Homo sapiens: one gene and its partners. The protein of the gene in region 1 interacts with the protein of each later gene in a pairwise test. Each region holds a gene or a part of one and is shown on either strand. Other genes may lie near its edges. The genes, in order: CASS4, SPIN1, CCDC78, SORBS1, TSPOAP1, ABLIM1 and REPS1.

Region 1 (3,968 bases):
GAACTTGCCTCAGAGGTGTGGTAAAAGAAAAGAAAATTTAAAAATAAAAAATTAAAAAATGCTGTCTGACAAGAAGATAGCGGTAAGCTATCCCCCACAGCTGGTTGGGGATAGAACTTGAGCCTGGCTTGGAAGAATGGGCACCATTTTGTCTAAATAAAAATGCAGGCCGGGGCCAGGCGTTGTGGCTCACGCCTGTAATCCCAGCATTTTGAGAGGCTGAGGTGGGTGGATCACTTGAGGTCAGGAGTTTGAGACCAGCCTGGCCAACATGGTGAAGTCCTGTCTCTACTGAAAATACAAAAATTAGCCAGGCGTGGTGGCGGGTGCCTGTAATCCCAGCTGCTCTGGAGGCTGAGGCAGGAGAATCACTTGAACCCGGGAGGTGGAGGTTGCAGTGAGCCGAGATTGCGCCACTGCGCTCCCACCTGAGTGACAGAGAAAGACTCCGTCTCAAAAAAAAAAAAAAATGCAGACTTATTTTGCTCAGTGTCTGCTATGCTGTAGGTCCTCTCTAGAGATTGGATCTGAATTTAGGAAAAGTAAAAAGAGTTGGCAAGTGATGATAAACTGCATGAGCTAGCAGGGGTTTCAAGTACAACACACACGATAAGTTTATTTGATTTAAGAGAGAGAATACAGGTGCGGGGCTCAGCATAGCCCTCAGTGCAGAGCCAGTACCCAGAAGATGTTATTCATTAGGTACCATGAGCAAAGACCAGGAGATGAGCATGGGGTTCCGAGCAGGGTGAATGCACAACTGACAGGGTGGGTAGAGTGGAGACTGTGTCCTTTAAGGCAGCCTGTTTGACTGCTTTTATCCTGGCTGTCATAAGGCAAGTTTTAGGGAGCAGGAAGGAAGAAATGCTGACCGCTATCAGAAATTTGGCCTAGTGGCCTCTCATCAGGGAAATGAGCTTGGTCTGTTCGGTTGGAGTTGTTCCACAGAGTTCAAAGGACAAGAATGCTGTGTGTTCATACACTGAGCTCTTCGAAGTAGGAACTTCGCCCTATAAAGCAGAAGAGTGGTGTTTTTTTCTTCTTCTTCTTCTTTTGTGGTTTCACATAGCAAATGAGTGACAGTCTCTACTTACAGACAAAGTGAGACGTCAGGCATTGAGACGTGAGTGTGGCTTGTATTTCTGGTCCTCCCCTGCTTCACTGCTTTCATTTTACTCTTATCGTGCTTTCCAGAAAGTTTGCCTGCTGGGAGAGTCTTTTTGATCGTTTCCCATGTGTTGTCAGATAGCTCCATAGAATTCAGTTTCTGAGAACCAGCCAGAAGCATGCAGTGACATTGCACAATCTGCCTCTGAAGCTGGAGATACTAGCTGCAGAGCTCAGGGGAGCTGCTCCACATCACCGACATGAAGGGAACAGGCATCATGGACTGTGCGCCCAAGGTGAGTGATGTGGGGCTGTTTGAATGGGCTCTGGCGGGGAGCAAGCTGTGATGATTAAGGGTGTTGACCAGCTTTAGTTGTGACTTTCTAATAAAGGTTGAATACCAGTGACGTGTGAGTTGGAGATGGGAAAGTTTAACATAAGTTTAAGTGTGGGAAATAGATGTGTTGTAAAGCTCCTTACCAGTTTGCATCCAAGATGGGTGAAAATGACTTTGTAGTAGAAATCAGCTTACTTGGTTGACAGCGCCGTCCATCATTTTGCGTCCAGCAAACTCCTGAAGCAAGATGCGAGTCTGCCTCAGCCCCCGCTAATTCCTTCTTTCTCTGGACCCCAAAGACACTCAGTGCCACTCTAACTGTCCTATTTGGTTTCTGTGCTCACCTCCCAACAGCAGAGCCCAGACCCTTGCCTGCAGCCTCCCGTGCTGAGCCCACAGTGGGCACTTACATGTTATTTTCATGTTAACTTGTGCATTATGTGAGCAAAGCTGGAGCTTTCAGACAGACTTCATGCCTGTCATGAATCAAAAAAGATTCACTATTTAGAAAGGTGAAAGAAGCCAGGCACGGTGGTACATACCTGTACTCCAGCTACCGGAGAGGCTGAGGTGAGAAGATTAATTCAGCCCAGAAGTTTGAGTCCAGCCTGGGCAACATAGCGAGACCCCATCTTAAAAAAAAAAAAAAGAAAAGAAAAGTTAAAATGGCTACCATATTAAAAAAAAATTTACCCAGACATAAAGAAAGTGAAGCTCAAGGTTGTGTTTTCATCTTGCTATGCCCTTTTTAAATTTTAAGTAGAACAGGAAAAAAGAAATGAAACAAGCAGTAAATGGGGAGCTTGCTTATAAAAATCAATGCTTATTTTTCATTATAATAAAAGTGACTAGTGTGGCTGTCTGCGGTGGCTCACACCTGTAATCCCAGCACTTTGGGAGGCCAAGGCAGGTGGATCACTTGAGGCCAGGAGTTTGAGACCAGCCTGATCAACATGAAAAAACCCCATATCTACCAAAAATACAACAATTAGCTGAGCGTGGTGGCGCATGCCCGTGATCCCAGCTACTCGGGAGGCTGAGGCACAAGAATCGCTTGAGCCTGGGAGGCAGAGGTTGCAGTGAGCTGAGATTATACCACTGCATTCCGGCCTGGGTGACAGAGCAAGACTCTGTCTCAAAAAAAAAAAAAAAAAAAAAAAAAAAGTCACTAGTGGAATTTGTGACTGAGTAACCCATGACAGTCTCTCTTGTATAGATTATATGTAAATATCTTAGCTACCCTAGAATTTTGTCCCCAACTACTTACTTTGAAAAATTTCAAACCATTGGAAAAATATGGGAAGCGTGGGGGTTATTCAGTAAATCCCTGCATATCCTTCACCTAGATCATTGGTTTCTGGTACTTTGTCATATTTGTGTGCATTTATTTGTGTATATTTAGACACTGGAACACACTTCATTTTTATTGTTGTTGTTAAACTCTTTGAAAATAAATGGCCAATACAATGACGCTCCACCCCTAAACTTCATTATGTGTCTCCTAAGAACAAGGACATTCATCTACAGAACGTAGAAGAATATCTACATATCATCATACCCAAGAACATTTCACATTTATTTAATAATGCCTTTCTACTATTCAGTCTAATTCACGTTGATTTAATAATGCCATTCTACTATTCAGTCCACATTCACATTTTCCAAAATTATCCTTTTTAGCTTTTCTGGCTGTTGTTGTTTGTGTGTGTGTTTGTCTTTCTGATCCAGGTGGTGTTTGTCAATTCTCAGTTCTTAATCTAGAACAATCTACTACCTTTTTCTCTTTCATAACATTGACCTTTTTTCTAAACAGCCTAGATTTTTTATGATTTAGACTTCTTTTTATGTACTGCTTATTCTGCCTAAATAATTTATGTAGCGCTTTACAATTGGGTGGGGTTTTGTTATTTAAAAAAAATATTTTTAGCAATGGGGGTATCACTCTGTTGTCCAAGCTGGACTCAAATTCCTGAACTCAGGTGATTCTTCTGCCTCAGCCTCCCAAGTACAGGATTACAGGTGCACACCACCGAGCCCCACTGCAATTTGTAAATAACATGCATGTTTGCATAGAACATATAATTGATATTCCCAGCATCCCCATGAAATTCTGCTATTAATATTATACAGATAGGCCGGGAGCGGTGGCTCATGCCTGTAATCCCACCACTTTCAGAGGCTGAAGCGTGTGGATCACCTGAGGTCAGGGGATTAGCCTGGCCAAAATGGTGAAACCCCATCTCTAGTAAAAATACAAAAAAATTAGCTGGGCATAGTGGTGCACGTCTGTATTCCCAGCTACTCGGGAGGCTGAGGCAGGAGAATTGCTTTATATATATATATAAATAGTAGCCAACCCTTACCGATTGTCTACATGTGAGGCCCTGTGCTGAGTGCTCTACTTGCATTTTCTCACTATTACATCCTCACAACATCCTCATGAAGCAGAGGTATTATTCCCCTGTCACAGACGAGGAAACGAGGCCTCGCTGACTTGCCCAAGGCCATACAGCTAGTAGGTGGC
Region 2 (3,500 bases), on another chromosome or scaffold:
GCCTGTAATCCCAGTTCCTTGGGAGGCGGAGGTTGCAATGAGCCGAGATCGTGCCACTATACTCCAGCCTGAGCAACAGAGTGCGACTGTCTCAAAAAAAGGAGGAAAAAAAAAAGCAGGACTCAAACTTCTTGATCTCAAAATTTACCACAAAGCAATGTAATCAAGACAATGCAGCACTGGCACAGCAACAGACATACAAACTAATGCAACAGAATTGAGAGTCCAGAAACACACCCACGTATCTGTGGTCAACTGATTTTCTTTTTTTTTTTTTTTTTTTTTTTTTGAGACAGAGTCTCGCTCTGTTGCCCAGGCTGGAGTGCAATGGTGCGGTCTTGGCTCACTGCAACATCCACTTCCCAGGTTCAAGCGATTCTCCTGCCTCAGCCTCCCGAGTAGCTGGGATTACAGGTGCCTGCCACCACACCTGGCTAATTTTTAGTAGAGACAGGGTTTCCCCGTGCTGCCCAGGCTGGTCTCGAACTCCTGACCTCGTGATCCACCCGCCTTGGCCTCCCAAAGTACTGGGATTACAGGTGTGAGCCACCGCGCAACAAGGATGCCAAAACCATTCAATGGGGGAAAGAATAGTCTTTTCAAAATATGGTGCTTGGACAACTAGATAGGCAGTCACAAGCAAAAAAAAATGAAGTTGGACCCTTAACTTGAACCACAAACAAAAATTAACTTGAAAATGCATCAAAGATCTCTAAGTAAGAGCTATAATTATAAAACTCTTATAAGAAAACGAGGGTAAATCTTTATGACCTCAGATTTGGCAAAAGATTCTTAGGACACAAAAAGCATACTCAGCAAGAGAAAACATAACTCGGACTTCAGAGTTTAAAACTTTTGTGCAAAGATCATCATCAAGAAAGTAAAAACAGCCCATGGAATAGGAGAAAACATTTGCAACATATATCTGATAAAGGTCTTGTATTTAAAAAATTGTCACAATGCAATAATGAAAGACAGATAATTCAATTTAAAAATAGGCAGGGGATATGAATAGACATTTCACCACAGATGATATTAAAAGGGCCAATAGGCCGGGCATGGTGGCTCATGTCTGTAATCCCGGCCCTTTGGGAGGCCAAGGCAGGTGGATCCTTTGAGGTCAGGAGTTCAAGAGGAGCCCGGCCAATATGGTGAAACCCCATCTCCACTAAAAATACAAAAATTAGAAGACATGGTGGCACGCGCCTATAGTCCCAGCTACTGGGGAGGCTGAGGCAGGAGAATGGCTTGAACCCAGTAGGCGGAGGCTGCAGTAAGCTGAGATCACGCCAATGCACTCCAGCCTGGGCGACAGAGCAAGACTCTGTCTCAAAAAAAAAAAGGGGGGGGGCCAATAAGCATATGAAAGATGCTTAACATCATTACTCATCAGGGAAATGCAAATCAAAGCCACAATGAGATACCACTTCACATCCACTAGGATGGCCAGAATCAAAGTAACAGTAACAGTTGGTGAGAATGTGGAGAAATCAGAAGTCTCATACACTGCTGTTGGAAATGTAAAGTGGTATTTCCGTTTTTAAAATTAGCCTGGCAGTTCCCCCAAACGATTAAACATAGAGTTACCATTATGACCCAGCAACTCCACTCCTAGGTATATACCCAAAGGAAATAAAACATGTCCACACAGAAACTTGTACAAAAATGTTTACAGCAGCATTATTCATAATAACCAAGAGGTGGGGAAACAACTCAGATGTGCTTTACTGGATGAATGGCTAATCAAAATGTAGTATATCCATACAATGGAATCGTATTTGGCCATTAAAAGGAATGAAGTACTGATATATGCTACAGCGTGAATGAAATCTCAAAATATGCTAAGGGAAAGAAGCTAGCACAAAGGACCTCACACCATATAGTCCATTCATATGAATGTCCACAACAGGGAAATTTACACAGCAAGTATTACTGGTTGCTTAAGGCCAGGGGGTTCGAAGAATAAAGGACTGACAGCTAACAGATACAAAGTTTTCTTTTGAGGTGATGACAATGTTCTAAAATCGACTGTGGTGAGGACTGTACATATCTGTGCGTATATTAAAAAGTACAGAAATGCACATTTTAAATGGACTAACTATATGGACTAACATGGTCGTAATGGCTCACACCTGTAATCCTAACACTTGTGGGAGGCCAAGGCTGGTGGACTACCTGAGCTCAAGTGTTTGAGACCACCTTGGCCAACATGGTGAAACCCCATCTCTAAAATATAAAACAAAACAAACAAACAAACAAAAATTAACCAGGTGTGGCGGTGGGTGCCTGCAGTCCCAGCCACTTGGGAGGCTGGGGCAGAAGACTCGCTTGAGCGTGGGAGGCGGAGGTTGCAGTGAGCCAAGACCACACCATTACACTCCAGCCCAGCCTGAGCAACAGAGCAAGACTCTGTCCAAAAACAAAAACCACAATAAAGGTTTTCTAGGCCTAATGAAATTAGCCCAGGTCACATCCTCTTCTACCTTACCTGTGTGAACAGACTAGTTGTGGAAATAGCTAAATCACCTGTCTAAACACTGACTCTGTACTCCACTTGCTACTGAAAAGTTAGCAGTCAATCGTTTTCTGAAATTGATGTTCTCTAAATCAGGAGTCCCAGACACCTGGGGCCACGCCGCACAGCAGGAGGTGAGCAGCGGCAAAGAGAGCACTGCCGTCTGAGCTCTGCCTCCTGTCAGATCAGCAGAGGCATCAGATTCTCACAGGAGCACAAACCTTATTGTGAACTACGCATGTGAAGAATCTAAGTTGTGTGTTCCTTATGGGAATCTAATGCCTCCAAAACCACCATATCCACACCCAACCCCCAATCCACAGAAAACTGTCTTCCATGAAACTGGTCCCCGGTGACAAAAAGGCTGAAGATCGCTGCTCTGAAGTTCAAGTATTTACAGATGAAATAATCAATGTCTTGGGATTAGATTCAAAATAATTGCACTGGGGGGACTAACAGATAAAACTAGACAGGCGATGAGATAACTGTTAAAGCTGAGCAGGGTACACGGGGACGTATTTTACTGATCCCTATTCCATCATGTTTTTAAATAAAAGCAAGAAGTAATATGTAGTAGTGTTAATAATTATAAAACAACTTGTATCTTATTACAGAAGCCAAGCAGAACTGACTATCAAATATTTTCTTATCTAACATTTATAACAACTGGATGAAAAATTTCAAAGGCTGTGTTTGTGCATGACTAAAAGAATCATATATCCAAAAATAAAAATGTATCTGCAAAAGAGCCAATCAAATATCTTGTACTGAAGTCCAAATCCCTTCTAATTATCACATATAAAAGTTGCCAATATATACTTACTGGAATCAGGCATAATGCGAAGGTCGCCTTCTTTGTAATCATCTAAGAGTTGGTACATGTACAAGACAGGGTCTTTCTCATAGGTAATGTAAAACCATGTGTTCATGACAGGTGCACGTGCTAAGACCATTCCCCTCCACTCATCTTTAGAACCATCCTCTG
Region 3 (4,091 bases), on another chromosome or scaffold:
ACCTGCAGCAGCCCCTCTTCTCTTTCCTGTGATTATCAGTGTCGCCGGGACCCACGGAGGGACCCCAGGGTGGGGATGTGCCACTGAGTGCATTGCTGTGACCAGACCCTGTCTGGCGGGGGCTTGGTGGAGCAACTGGGGGCCCCAGGGTGCAGGCGTTGTGCTCTCTGCTCATCCCCCACAGGCCTCCCCCACACCCATGAGGGCACTCACTGTGGCTCTGATGTTCCCCCCTGGGAGGCTCCACCGGGTCTCTTTTTTGGGGATGAGAGCAGTGCCCCAGGCCCGCCGTGCTACAGAGGTTTGTGGTGGGGACGTTTCAGTTGGCTGAACAAGGCAAGCCCCTCAGAGGCCCGGGGCTGAGGTCTCTGTTGAGCCCAGGATGAGGCCTGGGGCCAGTGTGGGGCAGTGGGTGGGTGGGGGGCACCCGGGCCTGGAGCTTCTGGGGGTCTCTAGCCTCACCTGGTCCTCCCGATGGCTGAAGTCAGTGACCAGGGGCACGGGCAATGGTTCCAGGTCCAAGCTGGCTATGTCAAAAATAGCTTGGGGGTTCCCAGGTGCCCTGTCAGGGTAGGCTAGTGTCTGTCTGGGGCCACTCCTGCTGCACACCAAGCCTTTGAGGCACAGAGGCTTAGAGACCCACAGATGCCTGACACCTCCCATCCCAGCGGGGCCCACCTGTAGGCAACCAGTAGCTCTTCATGCCTGCGGCTCAGATCCACCAGCCTCTTGTGGTAGCTGCGGGCAGCCCGGGCCAGCTGCTGCTCACGGCTGCGGTGCGCTGCCCGGATGTCCTCCAGAGTCGCCTCCAGGAATGTCCGGAGGGCCGTGGTGGCTGGCGCTTGGCCTGCACCATCTGCGTGCTCCTGGAGGCGGCGGGCTGGGTCCGCATGGGGCCCACCCCCCATCTTTTCCAACCATCCCCCCACCCCAGCAGGCTGAGCAGTGCCGGGGCCCTGGGGTCTCCCTGAAGCTATCCAGCACACCCAGGCCAGGCTTGGGCTCCCTAGGCCTCAGGGTGCTCCTGCAGGGCTCACCACTGCCTGCCAGGCGCAGTGTTGCAGCCGTAGGACGTACTCATCCTTCAGTTTCTTGAGCTGCAGCTGCAGCCGGGCATTTTCAGCCTCTGCCTGACGGAGCTGGCCTTGGCAGCTGCACAGCACCTGGGGTGGAAGCAGCCCTCCACCTGTGCCCTGAGAGTGGACCCCGGCTGAGCTTCTGGGGCCCCCACCCTCCAGGTCTCCAAGCAGTCAGGGCAGAGCCTCACCACAGCCTGTGTGGCCAGTCGCTGCCCGGCTGCCCTGGCCTCCTCTCGGGCTCCCTGCAGCTGCCGGCCCAGGGTTGCCCTGAAGACACGGGGGTGAGGCTCAGCAGGCCCACGATCAGGGGTTCTCTCTGCTCCAGGATGGGGCCCCAGGTGAGATGGCCACTCACACACGCGTCACCAGTGCCTGCTGCCGGGCCTCCTGATGCTCCAGCGCCCACTTCACTTCCCCCTGCAGCTGTGGGGCACACAGGGCTGGCTGGATGAGACCCTAGGCTTGGGGTCTCTGGTGCTGCCCTCTCCCCTGAGCTAGGTGGCTGCACACTCACGCCGCTCCCCAGCCTGTGCTGCTCATTCTCGGGGTTCATGGTGTTCTTGGGCTGCACCTGAATGGAAGGGAGGGCAGGGAAAGCTAAGGGGTGGGTGAGCCCCAGTTTCACTGAGGCCCCTGCTGAGGCTTCCCTCTGGCCTTTCCCAGCCAGGCTCTCCATATGCTCATGGTAACCTGGAATCTGTGGTCATCAGAGTGTCCAGGCACCTGGGCTTTGTGTCTGAGCTCTTGGGCTGCTGCCCGGGGATGCCTGGGGTCAGACTCCACTGGGACTGCACAGCCCTGGCTGGTGCCATCTCCTCGCAGCTCCAGCTCCAGTACCCGGCTCTCCAGCCGAAGGATCTGTGGGACAACTGGCATGAGCAGGTGCACCTGCCCGCGGGCCACCTGGGGTAGGTGAACATTCACCCGGTGCACGCTCAGGGGCGCGCAGCACTCAGAGGCAGGCTGAGACCCACAGATGCCATGTGCGTGTGCATGCCCATGCAGGGCACGTGTCCTGGGCCTGCACCCCCCGTCCCCCATGCACTGAGGCTGGTTCACACGGCTGCTCACCTCACTCTTCAGCTGGAAGATTTCAGCCTCATGCTGCTCATGTAGGTGGTGGGTTGTGATCTGAATGTCGACCAGCTCCTTGGAGATCTGTGGGTGGCCAGGTGAGAGGTGGCGTCTGTGGGCCCTGCTGGCACCCTCCCTCCTCACGAGCACGCTGGGGCCCCACACCCACCTGCAGCTGCTGCTCCTTATTGAGCGCTAGATCTGGTGGGACCTCTGCTTCCAAGCTGGTGGCCCACACTGCGGTGCCCCCAGGAGCTCCTGGCAGCCAGTCCTTGGCTCGTAGCACAACCTGGGGAGGTACCGCCACCCATTCCCCAGGTGGGTCCCAGGCTGGGCTGTGGCCCCACTCCCATGCAGTCACCAGTCCCGCCTCCCTGCCTGGCTGAGCTGTAAAAGTCCCTCTCCTGGCTGAAATTAGGCCCAGGGTGCAGGAACCTGCACCCTCCTGGCCTTTGGGGGAACGGGCAGACTTCAACCCCATGGCAGGAGCGGCAAGTCCCAGAGGACTCACATTCTCCACCCGCCGAGAGGGAGGTCCAGGCCTGGGGCCTGTGGTGGCTGCGTGCTCCATAGGCTAGGGAACCCTGGCCAGCTCCGAGCCCGGTGCTGCCTCCACGCCCGGCTTCCCCATGGCTGCTGCTGCCACTGGCACTGCTAAGTGCGTTGCCAAGGCCTCTGTTGGTCCCAGGTGACTCCCAGGGCACCGCCCACAGGGGCCGGCCAGACCGGTGGTTGCTGAGGAGGGAGGATAGCTCTTCCTCTCTCCATGCCTCCGTTTCCCCATCTGGGGAATGCGGCCCAGCGCCCCCTGCACATACCCTGTGCAGATGGAACCAGGTGCGTGAAAGCGCCCAGCCTGGGCGCAGCGGACGAGCACGCGGAACGGAGCGGCAGCCCGCCCGCAGGATGCCCTGAGCTACACTCGCTGGACACCTTCTGTGTACCTAGCAGTGCTGGCTGAGCCCCGGGACGGGGGAAGTATATCTCTGCACCTCTGGCCTGAGAAGAGGGGCGCAGACGTCCCCATCAGGGGCCGGAGAACTCGGAAACGACTGGCTCAGCCGGGGCGTCGGGAGGGCTTCCTGGAGGAGGTGCCAGCGCCGGGCGCGGCGGGGTCGGAGCGTGCGCGTGGCGCCCCACCGGGCACGCGCACCGCCGGCGGGCCTTGTGGTCTCATCGCGCGCAGGATCCGGGCCGGGCGGGGGCGGGGGCGGGGCGCGTCCGCGGAGGGGGGCGGTTGGCGGCTCCCGAGCCCAGCGCCGCGCTCAGTCCGGACCCCGTGACCGGCGGCCGAGGCCCCGCCTCCGTCAGTCTGTCCTTCGGGTCCTCAGCACAGCCGTGCCGGTGAGGCGGGCGGCGGGGGAACGCGGCTGTCCCGGGTCAGGGGTCTTGCGGCGGCAGGGCGGGGGGCCGAGGGGCGGGGCCTGGGAGGAAGGCGTGGCCTTTGGGGACTGGGGCTCGGACTGGGGGCGGAGCCGGGGCTGGTTGGGGACCGGCCGGGTTCCGCTCCTGCTGGAGCCCGGTGCGTGGAATTCCACGCGAGTGCCGGGGAGTTCCTGGGGAGCCGGGCTTCTCTTTTGGCCCCCAGCGTGTTGACCGAGCCCGCTTCGCACAGCCCTTCCTAGGGTGTGGAGAGCGGGCCCCGCCCTGAAGGGGCACCGTGGGCTGGGGGGCCTGTTTTGGAGCAGGCACCGGTGGCCGAGCTCCGTGACCATGAAGGTCAAGGTCATCCCCGTGCTCGAGGACAACTACATGTACCTGGTCATCGAGGAGCTCACGCGCGAGGCGGTGGCCGTGGACGTGGCTGTGCCCAAGAGGGTGAGGGCAGGCCGCGGGCCGCAGGGACCCGGCCGTGTCCCCCGAGAGCCTCCCCGACCCCCCTGGTAGGAGCGAGCCCCCACGTGCTCTGCTCTCCGGAAGTCATTGGCGGCTGGGGTT
Region 4 (3,500 bases), on another chromosome or scaffold:
TTTCCACAGGATGCCACTTCCTCCAGTGCAGCCCAGCCGGAGGTAATAGTTGTCCCTCTCTACCTGGTTAATACTGACAGAGGGCAAGAAGGCACTGCCAGACCTCCAACACCTCTGGGGCCTCTTGGCTGCGTCCCCACAATCCCAGCGACTGCCTCTGCCGCCTCACCTCTGACCTTCCCGACTCTAGATGATTTCATTCCCCCTCATCTGCAGAGGTGGCCCCACCACAGCCAGCCAGCCCGCGCCTCTGGCTCCTTTGCCCCCATTAGCCAGACGCCACCATCCTTCTCACCACCACCTCCGCTGGTCCCTCCTGCCCCGGAGGACCTCCGCAGAGTCTCGGAGCCTGACCTCACGGGAGCTGTTTCGAGTACCGTAAGCTTGCTGGACTCCCCTCCTCACGGCTTTTCTGAATGTCTCCTCCCAGCAGTCACATTCCCTTTCTCACTGAAGCACTGAGCTCTGAGGACAGCACTGGCTGCCGCTGTGCCTGTGTGATGACTGGAGCCGTGTCCCCTGTCACTAGCGTGCATGCTTCCCGTGTGTCTTCCCTGGGTCTCTCGGGGCTGTTCCCCATCTCTGCAGTGCCTCATCTGCTCTGTCCTGTTGGGAATGCACATCTTTCTCCCTCAGAAGACAACATCTGTGGCCTTTATGTTGACTGGCCATGCTTTTCACAGGCCAGGTCGGGGGTCGTGTGGTGAGCTGAGGAAAGCTAAGAATTATGGGGGAAAGCAACGGCAGGCGTGGTGGGTGCTACTTACCAGGGAGCGGGGAGATCTCGGGGAGGAAGCGATTCTCTGATTCTCTTGTTGACCTAGTGAGTAAATAAACTCTCTGTAGTATACAGAAATGACAGAGACTAGGATTTTTTTTTTTTTTTTTTTTTTTTTTTTTTTTTTGTGAGAGAGTTGGGTTTAAGTGAGCAAGTGGGTCTGAAAGCCCTGTACAAATGTTAGGACTTTTACCTCAAAAGGCAGGCAATTGCTAGGGCCCCTGAGGAGAAGGTCCCAGGAGCCTCTGTGACAAAACAGTGCCCCAGTGGTCACAGGAAGTCAAAGGGCCCTGCTGCCTCAGGTCCCATCCTGTGGGTGGGGGAATGAGTTCCCATCACAGCCGGGAAAGCCCAACTGCTTAGAGAAAAAGCTGAGTCAAAGTGCTTGGGTCTCCTTTTTCCTTAGGAGCCCTGGGAATTGAGAGAATCTGATAACTTCATTGCGAGTTGTAATATGGGAATACGTGAATCTACTCACAGGGCTTCGGGTTCAGTAGGATCGAGTGTAAAAGTTCCTGTTATGGAGCTTGACATAGAGAAGGTGCCTAGTGAATGTTAGCTATGTTGCTGAGGACTTACCCTGGCAAATGAGGGCCAGGGTCACTCAAAAGCAAGTAACTGGTTAGTTAACAATTCATCATTGAGTTTCTGCCGTGGTCTAGGCATTCTGCTAAGTACCCTGGGTACAACCATGAGTCAGGGTCTTGTTCTCAAAGGGATTTTTGGAGTAGGAGGTCACTTCTCAAGCTTTGTGTACATGGGATCATCTGAGGGTCAGGGAGGCTTGTTTAAATCGTCACCCTCAGGTTATACTCCTAGAATTTCTGACTGAGTGGGTCTGGAGAAGAGCCTAGGAATCTCACTTGGTAGCAAGTGCTCAGGGGTTTCAGATGCTGGGGTCCACACCCTACATTTTGAGATACAGTCATGTAGTGGGTCATGCAATTGGCTGATGGAACTAAGCGTTTACTGACATCCCTTTGTGTAAAGATGTATGCCTGCAAAACTGTTCCAAATGGCTTGTTAAGCTGAAGCCAGTCATGCAGAAATCAGGAAGGAAACTTTTCATTTGGCTTATTAGATAAATTATAATGAGGCATCAAACACATCAAAGCTGGGAACCGTTACATCCTGAGCTGGGGCCTGTTCTGAAATCTCTAGTGCTGTGCAGTGTAGTTAGGTCAGCACCAGGCCCAATGTGACCCACGGCCTTGGATATCCTTCTAGCTTTGAATTTCGCAGCTCAGTCCCATTGAAGAAAAATGCTAGATGTTTCCCTGGTCTATTCCCGTCTACCTTCAGCTGAACTTAGAATTTAGAAGCCACTCTTGTTTTGGGGAGTTCAAGCATCTTCCCTTTGACACAGATTATGTTTGCCTGGAGTAGCAGGTAAGGTGTCTTATGTTTAGTGTCCTCATAGACCATTGTGAGTAGTTTGATTGTGTATTCTATAATTTATTTGTGTAGACCTAGGTTTTCATATCGAGTTGGTTTTAGGTGTACCAGGACAGATTCGTTGGGACAGGGTCCTCAGTTTCTCAAACCTGACTAATCAGCCTGGTGTAGACCTCCCAGAAGGACCTCAGTTTGGCCTGATAGCTTCGGGTTTGGCCCTGGGTAACAGAGGTGAAAAAGGAAACTACTTGGATTCCTCTTCCTCCTCTGTCAAGAGGAGGAGCCTCTGTGGATGGTGTCTGAGCTGTGAGCTGATGCCTGCTCCATCTGTAGCTAGTTGAGAGAAAGAAGGAAGAATAAAAGTCATGTTAATTGATTTGAGTTATTTTAATCAATAGCTGTTTTTGTGATGTTCCAGAAATAAGACACAAAATAAAATCTGTAAAGTGCTTAATGCTCATATGATCCACCCAAACATCACATTAGGCATTTATACTTTAAAGAGCTGTATGCCTGATATTTTGTGTTTCTTGGATGCATTCAGGCAGTTTTTAATGATATGTCATTTATCATAATTATATCACTTTGGAGATAAATTAGGAAAAGTGTAGTTATTTTTCACTTTCTAAATGGAGGAATCAAGGTGAGGCACTTTTGTATAAAATCATACTGTGCTTCTCAAGTCTTGAGAAAAGGTTTTATTCATGACATTGAGCTGCCCCTCATAACTAAATAGCGGCGGCTATTTAGTGGACTTTCAGAAGAGATAGACTGACCTAGGCAGTGTTGTGAAGTTCCTACTGTGTGTTGGGAGCTGTCCTGGGTGCTGATGCCCATATCCTCTTTTGATAAGCATTTGTTTTCTTGCTACAAACATTTGCTCAGACACAACATTGCTGAAAGATCCCACCTGTCAGTCACGTGACATTTACTAGCACCTGCTATCTGCAGGGCATTGGGCTAGGTGTGAGTGAGGGGGTGGCCCTCATCTTGTGGGTACGTTCACAGGAGTTGATCTTTGATTATTGCTTCAAGATAATTATTGCCTCAAAAGTAACTATTTAAAATCTTGTTCTTAAAGCCTTTTAAGAAGAGCATCCTCAATTTATGGTTTATAAACTCAAAAATAGAAATGTATAGATATCATGAAGGAAACTGTCTAAATATTCTTAGTACCTTTTGGGGTCTTATTTTGTTTTAAAAGACTGGCATTATCCCCAATATGCAGATTATAATGTTAGTATTAATAATTTTATTGGTATTTCTGGCAGAGACCTCAGGTTTTTAAAGTCAGGATTCTCACAAGTCTTAGGGATCTTTGTCACTT
Region 5 (3,500 bases), on another chromosome or scaffold:
CGACCCTGCCCACAGGCCGCAACAGGCGACTAGTGATAGAATATTGTGCATCCCAGTCCTGATCAGCAGAAGCAGCAAAGCAGTGGAATGTGGGTGGGAGGAGGCAGGTGAGGGAGCCCGGAGGCCCGGCCCCACCTCTGCTGATGGAGGCAGGCAGCGTGGAATGGGAGCTGCTGGTGGGCAGCAAGCAGGGCCACCAGGTGGCAGCAGGCAGGGGCTGCCCAGGGCGGGGAGTGAGCACGGACCCGGGAGAGTGGCTCCTTGGCTCTGCCCGTCGCACTGCGGCCTCTCCGCTCTGGTTCCCCTTTCTCCCAGGCTGGGAGGCGTGGGTAGGGCTTGGGGCCTGAATTGGCCTTCGGAGGCCCCCTGGGCCTTCCTACAGTTGCTGTGCCCCAGGCCTCCCCATCTCCAGGGTAGCAGGAGCTGGTGATGCTGATGCCCCCGCTGCCCGCCTCCTGCTCATCCTCCGAATCATATTCAATGCTGATTTCCAAGCACTTGGGGGAAAGGCAGCTGGCCAGGCCAGGCTCCAGCGCCCGGCCACGGGAGCACCTCCGGGAAGGGCCCAGCCGGCCTCTCCCGCTAGCCTCTAGTCCAGTCCTGGGGCCCTCAATTACGGGGAGGCCACCCCTCTCCCGTGTGGGGCCCAGTCGTCCAGAGGCCTGGGGCCCATTGTTGCTGAGAAGTCGGCTGCAGTGTTCTCGGGGATCTGGAGGCCGCCTGCGGCTTGGGGGCTTCTCAGGGGAGCCCCCTCCTCTCCTCCGGCTGCTTCCACCAACTAATCCAGGCATGTCTTCCAGGCAGTCTCCAGCCCTGGAGGACTCAGGAGACAAGGGACACTGGCCAGGTCTTCGGGGCTGACCACTGTCACAGCCCAGCCCCAGCAATGCAGGTTCAGGCGGGCCAGGGTCTCGGGAAGAACAGCCTGCCCCTGACTTCTCCTCCTCCTCGTCCTCCTCTTCCTCTTCCTCCTCCTCCGGGATGCTAAAGAGCTTCTTGCTACAGAACTGCTGGAGGGGCAGCTCCAGGATCTGCTCCAAGATCTCCTCATCGCTGTCAGTCTCACAAAAGGGGTCGGGCTGGGACTGGTGGAGGTGGGGAGGTGGGAGTAGAACACAGCAGGGAAGAGAGATGCGTGGGGAAGAGGAGAGCGAGCTGCGATCTTTGCCCTCAAACGAAGGCAGGGGTTACGGACAACCCCACAGCCCTCCCACGGCTTCCTCCGAGAGGAGAGAACCAGAGGGACGGTGGCTGGCCCAAATTCACACACATATCCAGTGAGAGCCAAAGGAAGAATTAGGGAACACACTCTAGGAACCATCACCAGCCCCTGTGGGACAGGAGCATTGAGGAGCAGGCCTCCCCATCCCCTCCCCAGAAGCTACCAGCACAAGGATCTTAGGTGGCACCGGCCTCCCCTGGCCAGGGCGCTGTATCTGGTGGGCTGGAGGGAGAGAAGGTACAGAAATGAACTCCTCCCCTTCCCCTTTCTTTCCAGGAGGGCAGGGGCCAATCCTGGGGCACTTCCTATCTTCTGCTTAGGACAGGGCCCAGGCCACAGACCTAGAATGTTTCTGGCACTCAGTGGTGGTCAGAGCACCTGCTGACACACAGTGGGGAGGCCCCGGAGTTTGAGGCCTGGGGCCCAACAGCCCATCCCTACCCCGTTACCTTGGCCCCATTCTCCCTGATGCTGTTGCCAGCAACCTGCTTCTGGAAGGAGCAAGTCCTGGAACCCAGCTCCTCTTCCTCCTCCTCCTCCTCCTCTTCCTCTTCCTCCTGGATGTCTGACAGGTCTGAGTTGCGGCCGTGGTCCACGAGGGAGTTCACCAGATGAACCCCAAGCTCTGCTGTGTCCTCCTTCTGCAAGAAGTGAGGCAAGGCAGGAGAGATAAGGACAGTGAGGGGGCACAGGGGGTTCCAGGCAGGGTCAGCCCCAGCCACAGTAACAAGGGTCCTTTGGCAGAGGGAGAAAGAGCCATGTCCTAAATGGGGGAGGCACACCATGGCTCAGGGGCAGGGTGGGAGAAGGGAGATGGGAGCCACATGGGACAGAGAAATCCTAGAAGAAAAACAGACACATAGCACAGCCAAAGGTGTGAGAGCAGGACCAGAGCAGAGGACAGGCAGAGAGGGCAACTGGATTTGCGCTGGCAAAAGGTAGGGAGACAGGCCTCAATTCTCTGAAGTGACACAGTGTGTCCCCAAACCCCTACCTCAGCCCTGGGCCTCAGCCCAGACCCTGGGTCTCCTCCTTGGCACATCTCGGTATTTGGCGCCTGCTGGGCCCGTGCTCCCTGGGTGGAGCTGGAGGCCGGACAGGCCTCTCCTGCAGTCCACTCGGCCTCCTGCTTGGCCAGTGAGGGAGCTGCGGGGCCAGGGTCCTTCTCACCCAGGGTAGATGTGCTGGCTGTCCTCTCCTCTGAGGTGCCCAGCACTGCTGCCCCAGCCTCCTCCTGGAACAGAGAGCACTGAGGAAGGACCCAAGCCCAGGTCCCTCTGCCAGCCTGCACCTGCTCCCCTCTCCCCAGACAGGGTACCTGGGAGCAAGGTGCTGGAGGGTCCTCGTGGGACCCTTTTGCCATCTCTCTGGAAGGGCTTGCAGGGGGTGCTCCTGGAGGCTCTTGAGTTCCAAGGGGAGCAGGGTGCTGGAGAGGAGAGCTGGGGTCTCCAGGCCCTGGGGAGGCTGAAGCAAGGGGCGCTCTGGCCTCTGGGCTTGGGTGCGGTGAGGGGCAGGAGACTCGGGCTGGCAGGCTGGCCGGAGCCAGGGCGGGAGTGATAGGAGCCGGGATGGAGTCCGCCGACTCCCCGTGGGGCGACATGGTGCGCACGACCACCTCACGACACACCTGCAGCAGCTGCAGCTGGGACAACTCCACCAGTACACTGCCTGCCGTGGGTGAGGCCACCTCCATGATCTGCAGGGTGGAGGGGGCACAGGATGGGAAGCAGAGGCTGAGACAGCCAAGCGTGAGGATGCACTGACAGCAGTGGCAGCTAACTGACAGCAGTGGCAGCTAGCATTACGCCAGGTACTGTGCTAAGCCCTCTGCATGGCCTATCTCATTTCATCCTCCTGGCCATATGGCTTCAGTGATGGAACAGTTCTAAAATCTGTCATGTGCTGCCAAAGCCCATGCTCTTAACCCATCTGCCTCATGGTACCCAAATGCCAGGGGCTGGGCATCTCCGTGCCAAGCCAGAGAGCCTAGACCTCTGAGCATAGCAAGAAGGGACCCACCCCCACTCCCAGGGTACAGTGGGCAGGGCTATACCTTCTGCCCATCAGCGTAGATGGCATAGCCTGTGACCCGGACACCGTTGGATGTGCCAGCAGCATCGATGGTGACTGGGAGCCAACTGATGATCAAGATCCCAGGGGAGGGCCCAGGCTCGATCTGCACATCCAGAGGGGCATCAGGTGGGCCTGGGGGCAGGGGGGCACAAGACCCAGTGATGCAGGACGCTCCCCATCAGAGATACCTGCCCAATTTGCTATT
Region 6 (3,500 bases), on another chromosome or scaffold:
CTAGTTACATAAGATCTATATTTTTTGAATGACTACTATGTATAAACCATCTAGATAGGCAAGAGGTGGTCCCAGTCTTCAAGGGGCTTGAAATCTGGCAGGCAAGGCAAGACAGGTGTCTGTTAATAGTAACTAGAATATGGCAGAATACCTGCTGGGCTCTAGAGGAGATGGCATTGGTGCTGGAGGTCAGAGGGGTGTGGAAGGTTTGGGTTGTTGTGGGAAGGAAAGAGAGACCACATGGGGGCATGTGTGCAGTGCATGTGTTGAAAGGCTGCTGGAGGGCCAGGCAGAGCAAGGTGGTATCCACCCAGGTAGTGCCACACCTTCCTTCCCTCATGCAGTTCTGCTGAAGGAATGACTGTGGGATTGAACATTTCTCCAAGTCTTTTCCCAGGATGTGGGCCAGGAGAAAAGGAATGAAAGGAATGGCCACCATGAAGGGGTCCTCTTCATACCCTCCTTCCTGTAGCAAGGGCCTGCAGCAGCCCAGAAGGACAGTCTGTTATCAGTCAAGAGGCTGCTGAATCCTTTCAAATGATGTTTTCTAAGCATATAGGAAATGCACGTGATATTAGTCAAAGGATACAAAGTTGCATTTATAGTATGATCTCAGTTTTATATGTGTGTATACAAAAATACTAGATAGATATAAATCAAAAGATAGTGTTATTTCTGAGTGACATATTATGGGTTACTCTTCTTTTCTTCTAGATTTTCCAAAATCTGTAAAATTAGCATGTATTACCTTTATTTCTTGTTTTTAAACAAATCAAGGCAATTTCTTTTTAAAGGATACCAGCCCCAGTCTTCCCTTCCCACATCAAAAATCCACACACACTCACACATGCCTTCTGAGGTCTCCTGGCTCTTTAGGGAAAGCAGAGGAAGGAAAACGTTCTTCTAACACAGAGCCTGACTTAGGGAAATGGAGCTTTGAAACTGAAAGGGCTAAGAGGGTTTAGGGTCCCAAACTTGACCTACCTCTTCAGGAACTACCAGGCTCTGGGGCCACATGCATTCAGGCCCTCCAGCAAGAGAAACTTCTTGTGGGATCTGCTACAAAGAAACTGCAGCTCCATGAAAGTAATTGCAAGCTTTGCTTTCTTTTTTTTTTTTTTTTCCTTTTTTCTGTGAATAGCTTAACTCAGGCCTGGGACAGTTGATCTTGAAAGAAGAGATGGAGAAAGAGAGCCGGGAAAGGTCATCTCTGTTAGCCAGTCGCTACGATTCTCCCATCAACTCAGGTAAGCAGCAAACCCCCAACCTTCCCTGATTCGAGAGCCAGCCACCTGCTTGTAAGGCACCTGCCTTGACTGTTCACTTGTGGTGGAACCTACAGAGTATTCCACGGGAAAGGAAGTGTGGGAAACCCACTCCATGTCAAATGAGCTCATAAGCATGTCATGGGTCTTCCATAAATGTGTGTTTCCTTTCTTCTGGAAATGGGTGAACCCTTGGAGGTTCTCAAAATCCATGAAGGCCAATCCCCATATACTAGGTTTGTCTTCTAGAACACTCATCTCCAAGGGAAGCAGCAAAAGGAAATCCTCTAAAAAACATGATGCTTTTCTTCTTCTTCTTTTTTTTTTTTTTTTTTTTTAGATAACATGAATAAGACATTTTCTAAGCATTATGATTTTACATTAATATCTTCAATAGAGGCCGGGTGCGGTGGCTCATGCCTGTAATCCCAGCACTTTGGGAGGCCAAGGCAGGCGGATCACCTGAGGTCAGGAGTTTGAGACCAGCCTGGTCAACGTGGCGAAACCCCATCTATACTAAAAATACAGACATTAGCCAGGCGTGGTGGTGGGCTCCTGTAATCCCAGCTACTCGGGAGGCTGAGGCAGGAGAATCACTTGAACCTGGGAGGTGGAGGTTGCAGTGAGCTGAGATCACACCATTGCACTCCAGCCTGGGCGACAAGAGTGAAACTCCATCTCAAAAAAAAAAAGAAAAAAAATCTTCAATACAAGAACTGAGGATGAACAGTGTTTTTGATACTTTTGAAGAAGATGACTTATACACTGGGCTGAAATAGCCTATCAGTGTATTTTCCCCTGTATCTATTTGTCATAAGCCAATTCTCTCTTAAACCACAAGATTTCTTCTCTCATATTCTGAGCTAGAGCATAATTTTCTCCTCTAAGAGTTCCTTTAAAAATGCATTTAGTGGGGAGACCAAGGCGGGCAGATCACAAGGTCAGGAGATCGAGACCATCCTGGCTAACACAGTGAAACCCCGTCTCTACTAAAAAATACAAAAATCAGCCAGGTGTGGTGGCGGGCTCCTGCAGTCCCGGCTACTCGGGAGGCTGAGGCAGGAGAATGGCGTGAACCCAGAAAGCTGAGCTTACATTGAGCCAAGATTGCGCCACTGCACTCCAGCCTGGGTGAGAGTGAGACTCTGTCTCAAAAAAAAAAAATGCATTTAATGTTCACTCCATGCAAGCATTTTTGCTAAACATTTTATTTAATGTTCACAACATGCCAGTGAAGTAGATGTGGTTGTTATTAGCAACTGCAGCATTTTCATCTCTATTTTAGAAATCAGGAGGCTGGTATAGAAATTGAGTTAACATACCCAGCGTGATACGCCAATAACTAGCAAGACTAGGATTTAGAAGTCCACATATTATAACCCCGGAGCCCACACCCTTACCTGGAATTCCCGCTACCCTTCATAGATGCCTCACTGGCATTGATCTTGGATTCGGTGGTTTACAAATCTTTAGAGTTCCTTGGAATTCTGAGATTCTGCTCTATAAGAATGTATAACATTGTACCTGCATAGATGAAGAAATGAGGACTTCAGAAAGATTAAACACCATGTCCGGAGATACAGAGGTATTAAGTTGCAGAACCAGAATTCAAGCCCAGGGCTGCTCCCTCTCAAGCCCAGCAGCTTATCAGGCTTCCATATCATTGACAGATACCCTGTATCAGGCCTCCCAGGAGGCCAGCTGTAGATGGCTGGTAGATCTTGATAACATACAGGGTTGGCTTCCAGTTCAGTTACTGCTGCCTTATCAACTGGGGCATGGGCTAATGTATTCAGATATCCCTGATTTACATCCTTGCTCAGCTGTTTAGAAGCTTAGTAACTGTTGGCAGGATATTTTTCTTAGCCCCTATTTCTCCTTCTGTAATATGGAACTAATAATCATAGTGTTATTAGGGTTATATTGAAGATTCAAAGAAATAAAGCATGCTGAACACTTAGCTCCATGCCAGAGCTATAGGAAGCACAGCCAGCTTCAGCCCCCACTCAACCGCGTGGACTTGACTTTCCCTTCCCTCCTCAGTCATATCACTGTCCACCCACTCCTTGCAAATATGATGGCATATTTTTGAACATTTGAGCCCAATATGATTTGAATTTTTTTGGTATTTCTATCCTGTGAGGTAGAAGATACTGCCAATTTCATTAAAGGATTGGACCTTCTGATTTCCTAACAATTGGTTTTTTACTTTTTTCTTACTCAGCTTCACATATT
Region 7 (2,630 bases), on another chromosome or scaffold:
ATAAGATCCTAGTAATTTCAAACATTTTCTTATTACACAAATCAGGGAAATAGAATGTCTAGTTTTTAGAAAAGTCACTGTTTGCAACAATGGGTATTAACACCTGAATTTTGCAATAAACCCGCCCCCTGGTAGATGAATTTGTTAATGTAGCTTCTTTTCCCTAGTGATGACATCTGGCTATATCAACTCCTAGATCTCATTTTGAGCTTTAGTTTCCCAAAGAATAACTTTGCATTCAGAATTTTTAATCAATGTTGATTTTAGGCAGTCTTTTCAGTTAGCCACCATATTCTAACTTACTTACTTTCCTATTTTTCTCTTTCAAATTGACAGTATTGTGTTTTAACCAGAACTACCTCTATTTTGTACCTTACTTCCCATTTTCTGTTCTCAGAAGTAAGGAAAAAAGTAATTTTTCAAAATAGCTTCTATATACTTGTTTCAATGGTCTTCCCTGGTTCAGAAAAACATGCATTAACAAAATTTTCATCTTCATGGTATTATACTACTAAGCTTGTCTTTAAGTTCATTCTTCCTGTACGATGGACTAAATTAATAATCATATAACTACAAATGTCTTCTCCTCTGATCATAGAGTTATACAACAATATCATTCATTCAGTAGATGTTTATCAAATGCCTAAAATATGATCTAGGTTTTGGGGATAGACACAAAGTGGCCATAAGTTTATATCATTCATTCAACAGACATTAAAAAATGCCTAACATACTAGGTTTCGAGGAGAGGGACAAGACGGTCATAAGTTTATCTAGGACAATCCCAGTTTATACCCAGTGTCTTGGCCTAAATGATAGTAATACCACCCTCTTTTTTTCCTCTCAAAAGTGTCTCGATTTGGATGGTATATTACGTGGTCTTCCTAAACAGAAATGATTATGATTTACCCTCAATGAGTTCACTGTAGTAGGACAGAGAGACAAATGTGTCACAGATAATAATTCCAGGACAGTGTAATAAATGCTAAATGAGGAGCATGAACAGAATGTTAGGAGAATGAACTAACTGCATTCATTTTTCATTTCCATGGACTCTCATCTCATCTTTGTTCTATTCCAAGTGGGGCCAACAGTGCTCCAGCATCTCCACTGCCTGGAAGCTTAGGAGAAATGCAGAATTCCCAGGTCCCACCTTAGCTCTACAAAAACCAGAATCTTCATTTTAACATGACCCAAGATTACCTGTATATGCCTTAAGGTTTGAGAACCACTGGTTTGTAAGACATGAGTACCTAATAATGTTGGGGAACCATAAGCAATTCTGGGAGTAATTTTTTTTTTTGACTCAATAAAGAAGGAGTAAGTAAGAGTAATTTTTATTTCTAGGGATGCAAAGAAATTATAGTTACTAGAAAACAAACACATTCCTCTCAGGTATTAGGTGACAGTATACACACTGCATAAGCAGCATTTCTATTTAAGGCTTGCCTTTTCTCTTTCCACATGCAAGATGACTGAAATTGCTGCCACTTCTCTTCTTCTTTAGACCTGTTTAAGTCCCTTTAATGGAATCTGAGTTGTCTTTGATAAAAGGACAAACTAGGACCTGGGTGCAGTGGCTCACGCCTGTAATCCCAGCTACTCAGGAGGCTGAAGTGGGAGGATAGCTTGAGCCCAGGTTGCCAGGGTGATAGAGCGAGATCGTGTCTCTTTAAAAAAAAAAAAAAAAGTGTGTGTGTGTGTGTGTGTGTGTGTGGCGGGGAGGGGTTAACTAACCACAGTCAAAGCATCTAGAAAATTAGAGAAGAGAACCATATATGTGATCTTGGAGGTATCTGAGGTCACATTCCTTCTCTTTAGGTTTCTTTACTAAGATAAGGAACATTATAAAGATTCAGAAACTATATTACCTTTAATTGTTGCTGCAATTCGCTATTCAATCTGGCCAAAACGGTGTTGGTTTCCTTATTACGTCTAATTGATGCCTGAATAGCTTTCTTATCTTTCCCAACAGATCTGAGAAGATAAAGAAGGCAAAAAAACCCATAACCTTCATTTCTTATCTTAAATCCTCTCTATTCCTTCCTGATCTATTTCTAAACATGAGAAGCAAAAAGAGCATCTTTTTCCTTACTAGCACAGCTCAACCTCACTTGCTCAGTTGCAGTAGTATATAAGCTTCAGCACTATAGGAAAGGTTAAAAAAAAAAAAAGAAATTATTAAAAAAATTCTTCTTCTGTAGAATCACCTGAATTTAAGTAAAAGAGTCTAAAGTAGGTACTGGCAAACCTTTTCTGTAAAAAACCAGATAGTAAATAATTTCAGGCTTTGTGGGCCAAAGAGTTTCTGTCTCATATTCTAGTTTTTTGTTTTCTTTTCTCTTCTATTTTTTCTTCTCTCTTCTACAAAAAAGAAAAAGTCATTCTTAGCTCATGGGCTATACAAAAACAGGCCATAGGCTGAATTTGGCCCATTAAGACTTAATCTGCTGATTCCTGGTCTAGAACACCATAATTAAAATACCAGTTTTACTATAAACTATCAAGTTTAAAAAATGTACTGCTACGGGGTTTGAAAACAGGGTGTTAAAATGGCATTGAATTCAACTTAATAAAGGGGGAAACATGGGAAGAATACCTACCCGTACATGAGGAGGCTCTGCTCAATT

Evidence for each region.
Region 2: the proteins of CASS4 (region 1) and SPIN1 interact in a two-hybrid assay, tested with the Homo sapiens proteins (one large-scale study listed by IntAct).
Region 3: the proteins of CASS4 (region 1) and CCDC78 interact in a two-hybrid assay, tested with the Homo sapiens proteins (one large-scale study listed by IntAct).
Region 4: the proteins of CASS4 (region 1) and SORBS1 interact in a two-hybrid assay, tested with the Homo sapiens proteins (one large-scale study listed by IntAct).
Region 5: the proteins of CASS4 (region 1) and TSPOAP1 interact in a two-hybrid assay, tested with the Homo sapiens proteins (one large-scale study listed by IntAct).
Region 6: the proteins of CASS4 (region 1) and ABLIM1 interact in a two-hybrid assay, tested with the Homo sapiens proteins (one large-scale study listed by IntAct).
Region 7: the proteins of CASS4 (region 1) and REPS1 interact in a two-hybrid assay, tested with the Homo sapiens proteins (one large-scale study listed by IntAct).

What each region holds. Positions count from the first base shown.
Region 1 is NC_000020.11:56,411,092-56,415,059, forward strand, and holds the start of CASS4 (cas scaffolding protein family member 4), read left to right. Parts: upstream 1-1,168; 5' UTR 1,169-1,367; coding exon 1,368-1,403; intron 1,404-3,968. UniProt on the Homo sapiens protein: Docking protein that plays a role in tyrosine kinase-based signaling related to cell adhesion and cell spreading. Regulates PTK2/FAK1 activity, focal adhesion integrity, and cell spreading.
Region 2 is NC_000009.12:88,468,444-88,471,943, reverse strand, and holds part of SPIN1 (spindlin-1), read right to left. Parts: coding exon 3,339-3,500; intron 1-3,338. UniProt on the Homo sapiens protein: Chromatin reader that specifically recognizes and binds histone H3 both trimethylated at 'Lys-4' and 'Lys-9' (H3K4me3K9me3) and is involved in piRNA-mediated retrotransposon silencing during spermatogenesis.
Region 3 is NC_000016.10:723,644-727,734, forward strand, and holds the start of CCDC78 (coiled-coil domain-containing protein 78), read right to left. Parts: upstream 2,801-4,091; 5' UTR 2,725-2,800; coding exon 2,665-2,724; coding exon of another isoform or gene 2,443-2,664; coding exon 2,323-2,442; exon of another isoform or gene 2,238-2,322; coding exon 2,151-2,237; coding exon of another isoform or gene 1,938-2,150; coding exon 1,770-1,937; intron 1,651-1,769; coding exon 1,594-1,650; coding exon of another isoform or gene 1,503-1,593; coding exon 1,435-1,502; coding exon of another isoform or gene 1,347-1,434; coding exon 1,268-1,346; coding exon of another isoform or gene 1,264-1,267; exon of another isoform or gene 1,164-1,263; coding exon 1,038-1,163; exon of another isoform or gene 867-1,037; coding exon 679-866; intron 563-678; coding exon 463-562; intron 294-462; coding exon 214-293; intron 1-213. Other genes in the region: HAGHL (hydroxyacylglutathione hydrolase-like protein), read left to right, coding at 3,867-3,971. UniProt on the Homo sapiens protein: Component of the deuterosome, a structure that promotes de novo centriole amplification in multiciliated cells that can generate more than 100 centrioles.
Region 4 is NC_000010.11:95,411,372-95,414,871, reverse strand, and holds part of SORBS1 (sorbin and SH3 domain-containing protein 1), read left to right. Parts: intron 1-9; coding exon 10-378; intron 379-3,500. UniProt on the Homo sapiens protein: Plays a role in tyrosine phosphorylation of CBL by linking CBL to the insulin receptor. Required for insulin-stimulated glucose transport. Involved in formation of actin stress fibers and focal adhesions.
Region 5 is NC_000017.11:58,308,296-58,311,795, forward strand, and holds part of TSPOAP1 (peripheral-type benzodiazepine receptor-associated protein 1), read right to left. Parts: intron 3,428-3,500; coding exon 3,276-3,427; intron 2,919-3,275; coding exon 2,541-2,918; intron 2,457-2,540; coding exon 2,217-2,456; intron 1,864-2,216; coding exon 1,672-1,863; intron 1,086-1,671; coding exon 246-1,085; intron 1-245. UniProt on the Homo sapiens protein: Required for synaptic transmission regulation. It probably controls the recruitement of voltage-gated calcium channels to the presynaptic membrane, and modulates neurotransmitter release.
Region 6 is NC_000010.11:114,441,776-114,445,275, reverse strand, and holds part of ABLIM1 (actin-binding LIM protein 1), read left to right. Parts: intron 1-1,141; coding exon 1,142-1,247; intron 1,248-3,489; coding exon 3,490-3,500. UniProt on the Homo sapiens protein: May act as scaffold protein. May play a role in the development of the retina. Has been suggested to play a role in axon guidance.
Region 7 is NC_000006.12:138,905,624-138,908,253, forward strand, and holds part of REPS1 (ralBP1-associated Eps domain-containing protein 1), read right to left. Parts: intron 1,978-2,630; coding exon 1,872-1,977; intron 1-1,871. UniProt on the Homo sapiens protein: May coordinate the cellular actions of activated EGF receptors and Ral-GTPases.